2 separate regions of the Homo sapiens genome follow, and region 2 is linked to region 1. Evidence: fine-mapped expression QTL. Tissue or cell type: blood mononuclear cells. Region 1 holds a variant in brackets; the other region holds the start of a gene. All regions are shown on one strand. Distances are from middle to middle.

Region 1 (8,177 bases):
TTGTAGTAGGATGCATCGGAGTAAAAAGGAAAAGGCTGATCAGGGCCAGAGGTCAATGACTGACCTGGGGGTTCTGGGAACCTCAGGCCCAAAGTAGTTATAATGGGACTTAGGAGATCATTATCTCAGCTCACCTGTAACCTATACTTTGGCATATTGATTGAAAGGCTCTGGGTTATTAAAAAAAAAAGGTGACAGAGTTAAAAATAACAGTAACAGTGACAAGCAAGATAGAAATATATTTCTCTTTCATGCAGCACAGCTCTGCTCCACAAAGCCTTCAAGGCTGATTGATAGGTGCTCTGTGGTATAAGAGACTAAGTCTCTAGGGTATTATCATTATCCAGGTGGTCCGGGATGACTCACCACCCCCAGATTTTAGTCAGTCGGAAGTGGGGAGATGGTATACCCTGCAAGTTGCTCAGTACCTCCATGCATGTCTGACTGGCCAGAACTTAATCTAAGCTTCAAGGGAGGTTGGGAAGTGTAGTCTTCATTCTGGGGAGCCATATACCAGCTAAAAGTCCCAGTATCTTAGAAGGGGACCAGTATGGGGACCATGAATACTTTCTGTGACAGACTTAATACTTTATTAATACCACTTATAACCAGATAATACTTTACTATTTATAAAACATTTGCTTTGCAAGCCAGGTCTACACTGCCTTCATAAAAAGTATTTCTAATACTATAAAACTTTGTTCATAAATCATTTTGCTTTTGAATTAACTAAGCAAACCAAACTAAGAAACCAAATTTGATTCTTTTGACAACATTAATCATGAATGTTCAGTAACTTTACAACCCTCCACTTGGATAGGGGAATTACTAGAAACAAATTATTATTGTAACTCTACAGCATTTTAGACTTTGCCTTACAAAATACTTTCAGGGATGTTTAAAAGTGTATAGCTGCCAGTTTATTTAAAAACGACTAGAATAATAGGTCCAACTTCACAAGGGTCATTGTACGAGGACCAAATTAGATAAACCATGCTTAGTATATCAGAAGACACATAGTAAGCACATGATAAATATTAGTTAGCATGATGATTAGTTCAATTTTTTTTTTTTTAATCTCATTTACGGGCCAGGCATGATGGCTCATGCCGGTAATCCCAGCACTTTGGGAGGCCAAGGTGGGTGGATCACTTGAGGTCAAGAGTTCGAGACTAACCTGGCTAACATGGTGAAATCCTGCTCTACTAAAAACACGAATATTAGTCGAGTGTGGGGGCATGAAGCTGTATTCCCAGCTACTCAGGGGACTGAGGCACGAGAATCACTTGAACCCAGGAGGAAGAGGTTTCAGTGAGCCTAGTTTGCACCACTGCACTCCAGCCTGGGCAACAGAGTGAGATACTGTTTCAAAAAAAAAAAAAATCTCATTTACGTTTTTTCTGAAGCGCGTCCTCTTGTGTTACATGGCAAGTCAGGCATCGGCACCGTGCGTATTTTGCAGCGTATATGCTCTACGTGGGGAGCTTTGTAAAAGTGTTTTCTGTTCTGGTACTTCTGTTAACAGCATCACAGCCACAGCTGCCAGTATTGGGGCAGCTGGAATTCCTCAGGCGGGCCTGGTCACTATGGTCATTGTGCTGACATCTGTCGGCCTGCCCACTGACGACATCACGCTCATCATCGCGGTGGACTGGTTCCTGTGAGTATGCTTGGCCTGCATTCCAGCTCACTGTCACAGGGTCCCCCTCTGTCACTCTAGGGCACCAGGCAGCCTGGCACATCTACAGAAAGAACTCTGAGGAGAGGGGCCTCTCGGCCCATAGTTAAATTGTCCTTATTGTCTGACCCCTGGTCCTTATCTGGAGACCGAGCCCCAGATGCCATGTGCACTCACTCCCCTGTCAGCCTAAGGGGCACATCTGGCTGCCACACATCTCACTCCATAAAGCCATTCAGGAATTGGGAAACCCGCTGTCTGCAAAGGCAACATAAATCAGCAAGGCTGTTTCTGAGTTGCACAACATGACACCACAGCAGCTGGAACAAAGCTGCAGGCCCCACATGCCAGCTTAGGCCCTGCCTCTGTGTGCTTCCCATTCCAGTGGGAATGATTTTCCCATCCTAGCCCAATAGGGTGAGGCTGAGCTATGCCGACACTGGGAAGAGAGCTAGTGTCATTAAGTGGAATTGAGTTTCGGATCTAGGGAAAGTTACAAGAAATGTGCCCTCCACATTCTCAAACTCTAACCTCTACAGGCCCATCCCTTCGCCCCCTTCCCTCGCTCTTCCAGCTGGCATTCTCTGTGCCTTTTCTCTTAAAAATTTCCTTCCACTTTTGAAAATCTTTCCCCAGGATGCCCAAAGCAAAGCCTAGAACAGAGTACGTGTTGGAGTTAACACAACATATGTTCACTAGAACTGCAACATGAAAAGAGCTTGACAGTGTGCGTGAAACCCCAGACTGGGCGAGAGGATTCACTCCCCAGTTACTTGGACCTGTGTTTGTGTCCTGACCTTGTGTGAGACCGGGCAGATTACCCAACCACCCTAGTTTCTACCTCTGTAAAATGAGGGTGCCCGTGTCCTCTACCTCCTAGGGGTACTGCAAGATTCAGTGCAATGATGCCTAGAAAGCATGCAGCCTACTGTCTGGCCCACAGTCAGCATCAGTTAACATGAGCACTCTCATATAAAGCTACAGTTCTCCACAGTCTTTGATCTTTACACTTCAAAATTATTGAGAACTGAAACAGCATTTGATCTATATGGGTTGTATCTATTCATATTTATCATATTAGACACACTTATAAATTTCCACTTGTTAATTTATTACATGTTTTATTTAAAGGTGATAATAATTCATAAAATAAAATAATGGAATGAATTTATTATCATCTTTAAACAAAAAGGTTATATATGCTAACATAAATAGCATTTTTTTGCAAAAAACAACCATTTCGACCCCAAAATTTATTTTATTTATTTACTTGTTTTGAGATGGAGTTCCATTCCTGTTGCCCAGGCTAGAGTGCAATGGCACAGTCTTGGCTCACTGCAACCTCCGCCTCCTGGGTTCAAGTGATTCTCCTGCCTCAGCCTCCTGAGTAGCTGGGATTAGAGGCGCCCGCCACCACGCCTGGCTAATTTTTGTATTTTTAGTAGAGACGGGTTTCACCATGTTGGCCAGGCTGGTCTCGAACTCCTGACCTCAGGTGAACCACCTGCCTTGGCCTCCCAAAGTGCTGAGATTACAGGTGTGAGCCACGGTGCCCGGCCTCGACCCCAATATTTAGTGAAAAGAATGGTACTATTTTATGTTTTGCAAGTTTTCTTAATGTCTGGCTTAATACAAGACAGTTGGAGTTTCCTGTTTCTGCAGTTTCACAACTGCTTCAGTGAGTTGTGACATCACACATCATGTAGTCTTTGCAAAACTCCACTATACATTCATGAGAAAATGAGACTGAGAGGGACAAATGACATCTTAGTATTATTATGAGAATGGCTTAAAGAGAAGGCTCGTTCCCCACTGTTGGGACTCTCACTTCAGTCAAACTAATAACTGAACATTCATCATCTATATGGCCT[T/A]ATAACCTTTAATAGCTACTATTATGAATATTATGTGTCTATTACGTAATCTTGCAGTTGGTAGATACGGCGAACTGAATGTTAAGAGGTGCTTCGCTGGCCAGTTCCTAACGTAAGTTGAAAACTTGTGATGCTCACGGGAGCCTCGTTTTTCCCTCCTCCCCACCCTGCCTGCAGGGATCGCCTCCGGACCACCACCAACGTACTGGGAGACTCCCTGGGAGCTGGGATTGTGGAGCACTTGTCACGACATGAACTGAAGAACAGAGATGTTGAAATGGGTAACTCAGTGATTGAAGAGAATGAAATGAAGAAACCATATCAACTGATTGCACAGGACAATGAAACTGAGAAACCCATCGACAGTGAAACCAAGATGTAGACTAACATAAAGAAACACTTTCTTGAGCACCAGGTGTTAAAAACCATTATAAAATCTTTCCATCTCATTACAGCTCATTCGCTCCAGCAAGCCCGTCATCTTCCCTTTCCTCCCTTCTGATAAGACTGGAAAATAGTCCTCCAAAACACAAGGGAGGATTTTGGGTGGCCAAAGTGTACAATTTTCATCCCACAATTGAAATTTTTAAATCATTTCATGTTAGTCTTACCGAATAAGGTACCAAGATCACAAATAGTGTTGATCAGATCTTACAAGTTTATGTGGCACACAATCCTATAAATGTGATTTTTTTATATAAGTTAAAGAGACAAATAGTAGGCTAAAAACATTTTAAAATCAACTTTTGAAATTTAAAAATCTTTCAGAATACAATTCAGTTTTAGTTTCAAAATGTTAACAACTTGAATTACAACCGGTTATCAGTTGGACAGTAAGATTTTATCCCTTTCTCTTCTGACTGGTATACCTATTTCATTAGTAGCTAGGTGCACATATACATCTAGCACAGCTGTGAGGACAGACAGAAGGCAAAGTTTCCATGTGGCCTTGAGCAAGTCCCATCTCACCTCTAGGCCTCAGTGTCCTCATCTATAAAATGAGGGACTTCCCTAGAAGTCTTCATGGTCTCTTCCAGCCCAGACATCCTGTGATGTCATGAAAGCACCTGCCCTCTGTTTCCCCTCAGAACACCCTGTACCATCCATGGAGCACGAGGCCTTCAGAAAAGACACTTCAATGGGAGTGAACATTTCTAACTAAGGACAGGATGGCTGTGTGTGGTGGTCACCAGGTCCTGTGAGCAAAGTGCAGGTTATGCAAGTCGCCAGGCAGGAGGCCATTCCAGGAGTGGGATTATTCATCAAACTCTTTGCCCAGTTCATCCCAATGGGGGAAGTATTCCCTTCTTTCCTACTCTGGGAAGAATGTCTCCTGCCACTCCTCAACTGATGATAGACTTCGAAAACAGATGAGAAGACTAGCAGCTAGCAAGGGTGCTTGTGGTCACACTGTGGAACACTAAAGAGCTAGGAAAGAGTTGAGCACAGGCAACATTACAAACAAAGGATTTGAAAACACCAAGAGTACAGGTCTTCTTTAAGGAAGAATAAAAAAGAAGAGGTTCATTTTTCTGGCTTTTTTTTTCACCTGAAACACTTTTTCTCGAGTCCAAAATCATTCCCCCCGTGAAGTCTGCTTACCAAAACATAAGACGACTTATATATTTGAAAGAAGTCAAATGAATGAGCTCTCTAATAGAAGTCCATGAGTTGAGTGGGTATTTCTTATTTGAAAGTGTTTTTCTTTAATCAAAAGTCCTTAGAATGAGGGAAACAAAATATTTATTTGTTTTGGAATCCCACTTATCAAATCATTCAAAACTTTCAGCTGGAGTGGGGTTTGCTTTTGTTTTGTTTGTGTCCATAAGAGAAATGGTAGAAGATGAATCAGTATGAAGACACTGTCAATGAGGTTATGAGAAAAAAACAGCAGGGGCATTAGTTTCAGGCAAGGCAGCTCCCAGGTTTAGAGATTAATTTTTACCCCCTAAGGAATATCCAGTCAAAGACGCTGAGTGGGAGCTGTCAGGCAGTAGCAGCTGTGTTTGAGTTTCTGGCTGAAAATGGTGAAGAATGGACTTAATTATGCTAACAAACTGAAAAATCTAGACATAGATCCTCTGATATACAATTAGAGATATTTTTATATAGACCCCAAGCATTCTGTGCATAAAAGTTAACATTAGGCTGTGGTGCAGTAACCATTTAATGTCGAGGCTCTATTTCGGAAATACACTACAAATGTTAAAGTACGTGGCTGTCCTCTTAAGACACTAGTAGAGCAAAGACTTAATCATATCAACTTAATTCTGTTACACAATATGTGTTTTTTAATATACTAACCATTTCTTATGGAAAGGTCCTGTGGGGAGCCCATCCTCTCGCCAAGCCATCACAGGCTCTGCATACACATGCACTCAGTGTGGACTGGGAAGCATTACTTTGTAGATGTATTTTCAATAAAGAAAAAAATAGTTTTACATTAACATCTTTGCACGTTGTTGTTATTCTTCTCCTCAAAGAAAAATACATTTTCCATTCATGGAAATATTACAATAAGCTCAGGGCAGTCTCTGGAAGGATCCCATGCAGCAAGGTAAAATCTTGGCAGAGCCAGCCACAAGAAAATAAGTAAGGACATGCTCTCCTGCTCAACTCCAAGAACTGGAGCTGGAAACAGGAGGAGGTGAGCGGAGCACTTTGCTGTAGCAGGCCATACTTCCTTGTCCATGTCAGATTCAAATTTCTCAGATGAATTGAATCATTTCCATGTCGGGATTAGAAAAGTGTGATACCACCATGGGCCCTTCCGAAAAAGTAACTTCCTGTCTGACCTCCAAATTAGGTAGATTTATCTCTGTGATTATTACCACCATTTGTGAAAAGAGCTAACTAAGATCTCAAGGGATTTCCAGAAACAGCCATTGTGCTGGTGCTCTATTCATTAAGAACAGCTTACGGATGACTACTTTTCATCATGCTTTTTAGTAAAGAATTCGCAGGCAATATCATGAAATCTCCAGATTGAAGTAGTGTCTGGAGCCTATAATCTGACCCTCTCTACCAGCAGGTGGCAGCCACCTAGAGGAAAGGCTCTTAAGTTGGATCCATGGACCCCTAGGTCATCCACATGAGAGTTCAATAGGTTCATCGCCCTTGAAGTTGTGGGGAAAGTTTTGTGCATTTGCCTTTTTCTGGGGGTAAAATTCTTAATTTCAATCGGTTTCTCTAACAGATCTTACGACTAAAAAAAAAAAAAAATTTACAAATCGCTATGTTTGAACCATACACCCTAACTTTTGTGAAGGCATATGTGGTATTTACATGACCAGTTTGGGAAAAGAAAGGCTGCTCACAAACTGAGGGAACCAAGCCTGGCCACCCTGAGCAGATCAATATTTGCCCCCTGTGAAACGTTCTGGGAAGTGCCGCATAAAATCAATCCACTGCTAGGAAGTGCTCCCTTCTGCCGGGACCATTTTCTTCCCTTCTGCAGCCCACGCTGGGTTTTGGCCACCTCCACAATGCAGACATAAGAAGCAGGTCATCTGCCTGTGGGAGGTCTGTGGAAAGCCCCTTATGGTTAAGGGAAGTGCCTCTCAGCCAGAGTATGACAAAGAGGGTGGAGAAGCAGGCCTTAGATCCCAACATGTGGTAGTCACACATGTGCTCACAAATGGAACTATGAAAAATATGCAGGTTCACAGCTTTTTTTTTTTTTTTTAAGATACAGGGTCTCACTCTGTGATTATGGCTCACTGCAGCCTCGAACTCCTGGGCTCAAGCGATCCTCAGCCTCCCGAGTATCTAGGACCATAGGCTCACACCACCACGCCCAGGCTAATTTTTATTTTTATTTTTTGTAGAGACAGGATCTCGCTATGTTGCTCAGGCTGGTCTCAAACTCCTGGCCTCAAGCCATCCTTCTGCCTCAGCCTCCCAAAGTGCTGGGATTACAGGAGTGAGCCGCTGCACCCAGCCTCTGGCTGACATTTTTTAAAATGTTTCTTATAAGTTATTACATTTAACAAAATATTTAAATCCTACCCTCAGAAGTTAGGAGTCTATGTCCTCCTGTATCCACATTCATCCTGGTACCACCACTGTCCCTTCCCACCCAAGCAAAATTCTCCTTTTCAAGAGAAAAAATCTCACTTTACCTCACTATACCTATAAGTAAAGGCATAGAAAAAAAAGTAAAATCCTTGACTCATCTACACAGTGTTGAAAACAGAAGTGTGAGTTCTGTTAGCTGAACGGGCCTGGAGGAAGCGTGGCGGGAAGGCTGGATCCCCGCCGCAGGGGCTGCGGGGCTGTGGCTGCCTGCGGGCTGGGCAGGGCCGGGCGCACGCCCTCCTTCCGGGTGGCCGCGGGCCCCGACCCCAGGCTGCCGTCAGTCGAGCGGCCTCCGCAGCGGCCGCGCTTCCCCTTCTCCCACCCGGGTGGTCCCAGAACTGGAGCAACAATGGCCGGCTCTGTGTGGCCGCGTCCTGGGGCCAAAGCAGTCGGGACGTGTCACGCCGAGGGAGGGCTCCGAATGAATACGCTGACAATAAGAAGGAAGGGAGAGCGAGGGAGGTGATGGGCAGCGTCCTAGAGGGAAAGCGGGAGATGAGAAATCTACGAGATCCGCGAGGCGGCGTCCGGGGAGCGAGCCTCATAGTGGC
Region 2 (8,154 bases), 81 kb before region 1:
CCATTCAATTAGAGCAGCCACACTTGGATTTATTTTACATTGTAATGATTGAAGAAGGAACTCATTGGCTTTTTTTTTTCCTTTTAAGTTTGATGTTTACTGACTTCCTTTCTCCAAGTCTTAGAATTGGAAATGGACTGATGAACCCTCTTGTGTTTGTGACTGTGTTGCATCTGTTTATTGGTGCAGCAACTCTTTTCTGAGCACCTTCCGTTCTGGTTCCTAAGTATGCAGTAGTTATCCATACAGGCCCTGCCCTCAAAGACCCTGCAGTCTAGACAGGGAGAATTGCAGCACAAAGTGGTAATGACTCTGGAGATTTAAACCCAGGGGGCCTTGGGAGCACATAGGAAAGGCAACCAAGCCCGTTGGATTTGGGGAGTGGGAGGAGATTAGAGTTGACTCCCCAGAAGAAATAACAGATTGTAGGCCTTCCTTTTAATGTTCTTTCCTTTCTTTTCTATCTGTCTTTAAAAAAACTCCTGGGGGCTTCTTTTGGGAAAAGATGAGAAATCAACATGAAGAACTCTTGTCTTAGCGCTGACTATGATCCCCAGCATATTACTCAATCCCTACTGATCTCCAACATCTGGGTCTACAGGACCAGTAATAATAGAGTAGAATAGACCTCAAAGTATTATCACGAAGATTAAATTAGATAATGTGTGTAGAAGTACTTAAAAAACTATAAAGCCCTGTAAACATGTCTGCTGAAGGCTTCAATTCCAATCAACCTACATAATCTTTTCCAGCTAAACGGATATTCTTGGTTCTACAAAGTCTTGACTCATGTTGAGCAACTGGGGAAAATGTCACTTTTCAATATAAATAATAATTGATAACAATAACATGTGTGAAGCCTTCATTAAAAAGCAGACCCTCTTTAGCTTTAGAATGGAGAAAACATGTTGTTTTTTAAGGCATCATTATGTCCACCTGTTGGATCACTTGTGAGAAAAATAACAGTTGGTGTAATTTCTTGCCACGTGGGAATCTATTTGGGGGGGTTCCTCTTGCTGGTCTTCACCTTTGTGTTGGTGTTCCCTAGGCTTCTGCCCTTGCTCAGTCCTCTTCTGAAACCCCATCAGAGGTCAAAACAGAAGAACTTGCTAGAGCCACATGCTGATAACTAACTTGAGTGAAGTGAGCAGGACAAGTGGGCTGGAGAGTGCACACTCCACCTACAGGAGGCAGCCTTGGCTCAGTGTCAGCCGACCCCTTCAAGGGCCTTGATATTCTCAAATGGTCAGTATTTTTCAGTGTGAATGTGAACTCACCTAGTTTGTAAATGCTCCTCCTGCCCCTTGACTTCCTAACCCAAGTCTTAGTCACTTCAAGGCTTTGCATTTTACCTAAAACGAAAATTACTTCCCTGCTTAAATCCTGTGGCTGGCTCCCCATTGACTAGGAGTGGAGTTCAAGTTGTAAATTCGGCCCCTACTGGCCTGTTCTCCAGCAGGAACCACTACTGGCTCCCTGCCATGCCACACGATGGCTGCTATGGGCAGGCACCTGCTAGAAACAGTGTACACAATGTGGATCCAGGCACAGCCCCTTCTCTTAAGTTGCTACCAGTCTTTTTGACATACTAACTGGTAAATAGGCCTCAGCACACAGCGATCTCATAACCTTCTGTTGGGCCCTGTCCTGGCCCACTGCTTAATAATTACGATGCGTTTATGGACTCCTTGAGGAAAGAAACTGGTATTTGGAACACAGTGGTTGCTCAATGTTTGTTGAAAGAATAAATGAATGTGATAAAGTTAATTTTAGTTCACCTCTCTGTAGTTGGATGTTTTTAGGTTTCATATGACTATAACTTTAAAATAAAACCTAGTTATTTAAAAATTCAACTAACCAGACTTCACCACAGGTTTTTTTGTTGTTCTGCTTTTTACATTCATATTTAAGAAGAAAAAAAAATCAAAACAAAATGGAAGACAACTACCACAAGTTCTTCTACACCTACTGCCTCTAACACATCCACTGTTACACTCTGGGGTTAAGTCAGGTCCTGTTCATTGTCTTAGCATTCTACAATTTCCAAATTCTAGGAGGAGAATTGACATTCATGATGATCCTAAAATGCAAGCTATTTAAACAAGGAATGATTTTAAAACCATCATTAAATTAAAAATCAACTTGGAAAATATTGAAAAAAGATTAAAAGGTTTTCTAATCCATTTTGTTGCTCAAAAAAAAATCCAATTAACCAAAATTTCCTAATTTTGAATGGTGAAGTTTGACTGGCCTGTACCATGCTAAGATCAGCACGTGCTTATTACCGTAATCTCTTGTTCTTCAAACCAATAAATGCTCCCTTTAAGGACAGGTTGGATTTGGTTATTTCTTGTTATACTGACATTTTTTCCCAAAGAAAGAATTTACTGATAACATACTTCATCACACAATGTTCACAGAAAGATCTTGACAGATTTTTTCAGCAGGAACAGCATTTGCTGCTGGTGTTTGTGTTTTTTTCATTTGATAATACTAACATTAATATGATCCCCCAGCTTCTGTGTCTCCCACCCTGAGTAGCTTTAAATGAAATACAGCATACAGAGACTTGTTCATAATTTCTTGATCTTTCATTTATTTAGTGTTTCTAGAAGGAAAAAAAAAGATGTTTTAAAGCTCAAGGGACTTAACTATAAAGTAGAGGGGAAAAGGTAGAAATACGCGTTGAGGAAACCCAGGAGGCCCCCAGGCATGACTTTTGCTATAGCTTTCCAGAAAGAGAAAGTGGTGCTTAAAGAAGTAATTCCCAATGTTTCCCTCCAGACTAAAATTGGATGAACTCTGAACTGAGACTCTTTGCATCTCATTTTCTCATTAGGTTTTATTACAGCCAACAAAACTTTCAGTGGTGAATTACTTCCCTTCTCAACAGAATACCAGACTCCCATAATGTCTACACAAACTGAAATAATGAAATGGTTTTTAACCAAGCTTTAGGGATTAGAGAGGAAAAAAAAAGTGAAAAAGAAAGGGCACCAGGGTCTTCCCATCTCTATGCTAACCAAAGTGTGGTTTTCCAGCCCTTTTTCTTGCCTATTAACAAAAATAAAAACAAAAAATGGAAATGCCACTGGGCTTGAAACCCCATTTAAAATCAGATTTCTCTTTCGAGTTCCCTTGCAATACAAGTCAAAGTCATTTCCACCAAAAAAAAAAAGCGGTGGGGGGGGGGGGTGTGCAAATTAATCCTAAACTCATGGCTCAGATAGGACCTGGTATAGTAAATAAATGCTTTTAAAAGTAGTCATGGCATTGAGAAATGGCTCCATGCACCTAAACCAGAGGCACCAATGTAAAAACTAGTAATTGTGTTTTAACACAAAAGATTGAAAAGCGTTTTGTTTCACATCCTAATATTATTCCACCCACTTAAAAAGAGTTACTTAATATTGACTCTGTATTAGGTATAAGACAAGTTCTTGCCCTCAAAGAACTTATAATTTAGTTGAGAAACCAAAACTTAACATGAGCTTAAAAAGAAGGATGCAGTACAAAACATGGTATAATTAAGTGCTAAACAATGTAGTATAGATGCTCAGTGACCTAGGAGATCAGAGGAAGGGAAGGGTCACTGAGGGCTGGGAATGTCAAAAGCATGTACTTTCAGTAAGTTCTTAAAATGATAGCATGTTAGAAAGCTGTTATAATTGCTGCTGATTTGTAATTTTAAAGCATTGACATGATTCACCATTGCTTTCCAACCAGTAGCTGTTTAAAAGGACATACAGTTGAGGGTGAAAGGAGATATTTCTTTATGATCTCCAGAGATTTGTATTGAGGGGAAAAAAGACATACTTTCTTGTTGAATAATAGACCAAGAATTGAGCATATTTTGCATGGGGAATATTAAATTCAGTGAACAAGAATCCAAACCTCAGGCTGTGATTCTGGTATAAATTTTTGTTTCTAATGAACCATTTTCTTCCTTCTAAAGAAGATTTAAGTTTTGGGAATAAGTCACCTCAAAAAAATTTTTTTTTATTTTCTAATATCTATTTTCACAATTTATTTTTCTTTTAAGAAAAGTGGACTAGAAGCTCAAGTTACCTTCTCAAGGCAATGAGAATTTTTTAGCTCTAAAAAAGTTGTGTGTGGTAGGGAGAACATTTAGCATCCTTTAAAATGGAGACATCTGAACAGCAACCTATCTTTTGAATCACCAAATCTCAAGTGTACTTTGCACTCTTGGTCTTAAAATGCTTTTCATTTTCTAGTTTGGCAAAAATTCCAGTCTCTTTACATTTGCTACCTTTTCCGTCTTTGCAACACAGGCAGTGTGAGCTAAATTAGGTTTGTTAAAATGAAGTTTTGAAGTTTCAACTGCTGAAATAGAGGCATGTCCCTAACTTTAGACAAATTTAGAGAATCGTAGTAAGCATTATTTTTTTTCTACATACTTGTCTGCATTCAGTGTCTTCCCAAGAAACGTCAGTTAATTCCCCGATTCGAAAAAGGAACTTTCTCGTAACAGTTGTACAACCAGGCTAAAGAGCACACCCTCGTCTTCCCTGAAAGGGAGGAAACATGCAATAATGTGAGGTAATTAAATTTAGCCTTAGAAAAGTCTTTGAAACGTTCTAATCAAGACTTTCAGCTTTCCGATTGTGTGCGCTTTATTTTTCAATTCTTCCTAGTCCCGGTTTTGCATTTCTAATGACAGTGAACTGACAAAGCGTGAAAGTGGTCTAAGGAGCAAAACAAAGCCAGCAAGCCTGCTTCTGGTGTGCCAAGATTAATCAATATTCCAGAAACCTCGGGGTTTCCCCCTCCTCCCTGTGCGGTTTCCATTCCCCACTCCTCCTTTCCCGGGCACAGACTCCTCCCCTTTTCTTAAGTTGCCCTGATAGTAACTTGCAGTTTCAGAGCACATGCACACTGTCAGGGCTAGCCTGCCTGCTTACGCGCGCTGCGGATTGTTGCTCCGTTGTACCTGCTGGGGAATTCACCTCGTTACTGCTTGATATCTTCCACCCCTTACAAAATCAGAAAAGGTAAGTGTCACATTCTGTGTTCCTGCTGGGTTTAATTTCTCCTTTCACTTCTCTGCCGATGTATTTTGCCTTCCAAGCAGAGGAGTAGCCTGAATCAAGGCTAGCCATTTTGGTAGATAAAGTCCTTGTTAGTCATCTCACGTCGTGAGAGTGTGGTGTCTGTTTATGCCGGGTCCGCTGTTAATTCGGAGTTGAGTCATTCGGGGTGGATTGGGGGCAGATTGTGGCGCGAGATCTAGAAAAGGATCAAGGTTGAGCGGATCTGCTTAAAAGTGACTGGTAAGAGGAATCAGAGCTATTAGTTTAAAAAAAAAAAAAATCTGGTCTCTCCTATTTCCCGGTCTTCACTTCTCCCTAAGCATTTAATCCAGTGTGAAGTCTTAAACAAATTAGAAGTCTTAGTATCACTGACCCCAACTTGCAATTTTATTTAAAAGGCAAACTGTTAAGACAAGTCTTTTTTTTTCCTGCACTGGGATTGCGAGAAGTCATTTGCGAGGAGTCCTTTGGTTTCCAGTTACCTCCCCCACAGGCGCACACGCTGGCTGCTTGCGTTGGCAGCGACACACATCCATGGTACGGCTGGTTTTCACTCGGATTGATTATGGGAAGGGCTATGGATTAGAGCTCCTGTAAAGCACCAGGAGGAATCCCTTGATTTTTCAGAACAGCTGATTTCCACCAGGAAAGAGATTTACTGAAATGTAGTTAAATAGCGTGAGTGCTTTAAAGAAACCAGAAACCACAAGCTGTAATGTTTGGAATGAAAATTGGTTTCATCTCATCTGTTCTAGAAATCCTAAATTTTAAAACGCTAAAAAGTCAGCGATAGTTTCCTCGGAAGATTCCAGCATGTGTGTCACAAAGAAAAACACTACTTCATACTTCTACTTGTGATAAACGAAGCTGAATTGTGATTTCAGATGATTTATAGATGTGCCCAGAGCACTTTGCTTATTTCATGGAAAAAAAATGAAAAAATTACCCTGTAAAATAGTCACATGTATTTCCCATGTACTGTGGGCACTTGTGTTCTTTTTATGACCATATTTACTAGTAGATATTATTATATTTTTTTCTTAATGAAGAAAATAGCTGGTTACTTTACTGCATGTAACAGAGACAACTCCCACCTATCAGTATCTTAATTATTTTTATTGACCTGGTTATGCTTTCAACCATGTATACAGCATAATTTGTCAAGTAATGATTGAATACTTTCTGTGCATTCAGTTCAATTGGACATTTACTGATTGTGTACGTTGTGCAAGGCATCAGCTGGGTTCTGCGGGGGAGGGTGGGAATAGGGGTTCTCAGTCAGATCTAGCTCTGAAGAACCCTTTTATAGCCTCATTGGAAGGGGAAGGACGGATTTTTAAAAAGAAAATAGAATATATTCCGAATTTATGCACATTTCTCACACGTGGTCCACTAAAATATGCACACTGCAACCTTGAGGTCTGGTATTGTGGCTCTCCAGTCCTTGATTCCTGCTGAGATTATGCAATTTGCCAAGAGCTTGCCTGGTGTGGAGCAGCACTGATTTCTCACCCCTGGAGGCTATAACTCATGTCTCTTTTTCTCCCATTCTAGTTGTGTTTTCTAATACCAAAGAGGAGGTTTGGCTTTCTGTGGGTGATTCCCAGACACTGAAGTGCAAAGAAGAGACCCTCCTAGAAAAGTAAAATATGACTAAAAGCAATGGAGAAGAGCCCAAGATGGGGGGCAGGATGGAGAGATTCCAGCAGGGAGTCCGTAAACGCACACTTTTGGCCAAGAAGAAAGTGCAGAACATTACAAAGGAGGATGTTAAAAGTTACCTGTTTCGGAATGCTTTTGTGCTGCTCACAGTCACCGCTGTCATTGTGGGTGAGTCATTTGATTAAAAACAAAAAAACCTGTATCTTGTTTCTCTGGGGCATCTGGCTGCCCGGGGAATATTATCAGATGAACTAGTTGTAGGTATCAAAATGGTAGCCTAGGCTTTCCTCTGAACTTGATGATTTTTCTCCATAAAAATGACTGTTTTGGCTTGTTTGGAGCAATATATAGTAAACACATCATTAGGCATCATTAGGCATTATGCAAATCAATTGTGTGAGGAAGAAAAATAAATAAAATATTTTCCCATTTCATGTAAGGATAAGGAAGTGATCATTTAATCATTAGGCATGACAAAGCAAGCATGCTAGATTTGGCCAAAATGTAATTATATACAATGTCAGTTGCACTTAAAACTAATTTATACAATTAGTACACCTAAAATGACATGTTGGTTCCAAATAGTAATTATATTCTAACTGGTGCTGACTTGAAGCTGAGTATCAACGCTTAGGCACAGAGACCGAATATTTTATGTGTTTGCACTCTCTCACCCAGCAACTGGGAAAGGTAGATTGGGGAAAATGTTAACACAGATCTCTTTCATTCATTGCTTTGCAGAGCCTGCCATAACCAGCTATACCTTTTTTTGAATCATTTCCATCTCTTACTAATTTAGCAGGGTTGACAGCAATCTGTACTAATAAAATATTATTGTTTTGTTTTGTTTATTGATCTTAAAAGTTATAGTTTATTACTTATGGGTGGCATTGATCCTACTTTAAAATATAGCTGAAAAAACCTACTTATTTGGAATTTTTGACCAAACCAATACAGAAATCCTTAGATTGACAAACATATACGCCAATGCCAGGTTGTAAAAATATTCCAACTTAACCTACCAATTTGCCACCAAAAAAGAGGCATTCAGTACCGTTTTAATCTCTACTTTGGAGTTTGCCAAGATTTCCATCAACTTTAAAGAGGTAATGATTTAATAAAGATTAAGAAAATTCTGTAGTGTGTAAATATAACTTTTTTCAAGAAAATTGAATTCTTAAATTGTAGACAAATGAAGTATAGCAGGAGAGTTTGTCACAAGATTTTAGATACATCCCATTTTAACATCATTGTCTTCCATTAGTAATCACTGGTGATTAATGATGGTTCAATTAATTTAGAGATATTCAAAGAGAACATGTCCTAACTGACCCAGAGAAGTAATGGCTTTCCACAGTAGGTTTCCAGGCTTGAATATATTCCTGGGTGAAATATTTCAGTCCCACATCATTGTCCTGGAAGTCAATGCAAAATACAGTCT

The links. PIP is the estimated chance that this variant, and not a neighbour inherited with it, causes the effect.
Region 2: it holds the start of SLC1A3, and the variant in region 1 is fine-mapped to the expression of SLC1A3 in blood mononuclear cells (TOPMed, PIP 0.90).

What each region holds. Positions count from the first base shown.
Region 1 is chr5:36,682,339-36,690,515 of GRCh38, forward strand. It overlaps SLC1A3 (solute carrier family 1 member 3), which reads left to right. Exons shown (of 10, transcript NM_004172.5): 9 at 1,526-1,660; 10 at 3,727-5,996. The coding sequence ends at 3,931. The region is part of intron 1 of SLC1A3-AS1 (SLC1A3 antisense RNA 1); the gene reads right to left. Among named protein-coding and RNA genes, the nearest start is that of SLC1A3-AS1, 39 kb to the right of the region's middle. RefSeq lists an enhancer at 7,072-7,301 and a silencer at 7,757-7,956. The variant T/A (reference allele first, on the strand shown) is at 3,550.
Region 2 is chr5:36,601,724-36,609,877 of GRCh38, forward strand. It overlaps SLC1A3 (solute carrier family 1 member 3), which reads left to right and starts at 4,883. Exons shown (of 10, transcript NM_004172.5): 1 at 4,883-5,012; 2 at 6,606-6,881. The coding sequence starts at 6,701. RefSeq lists an enhancer at 4,990-5,089.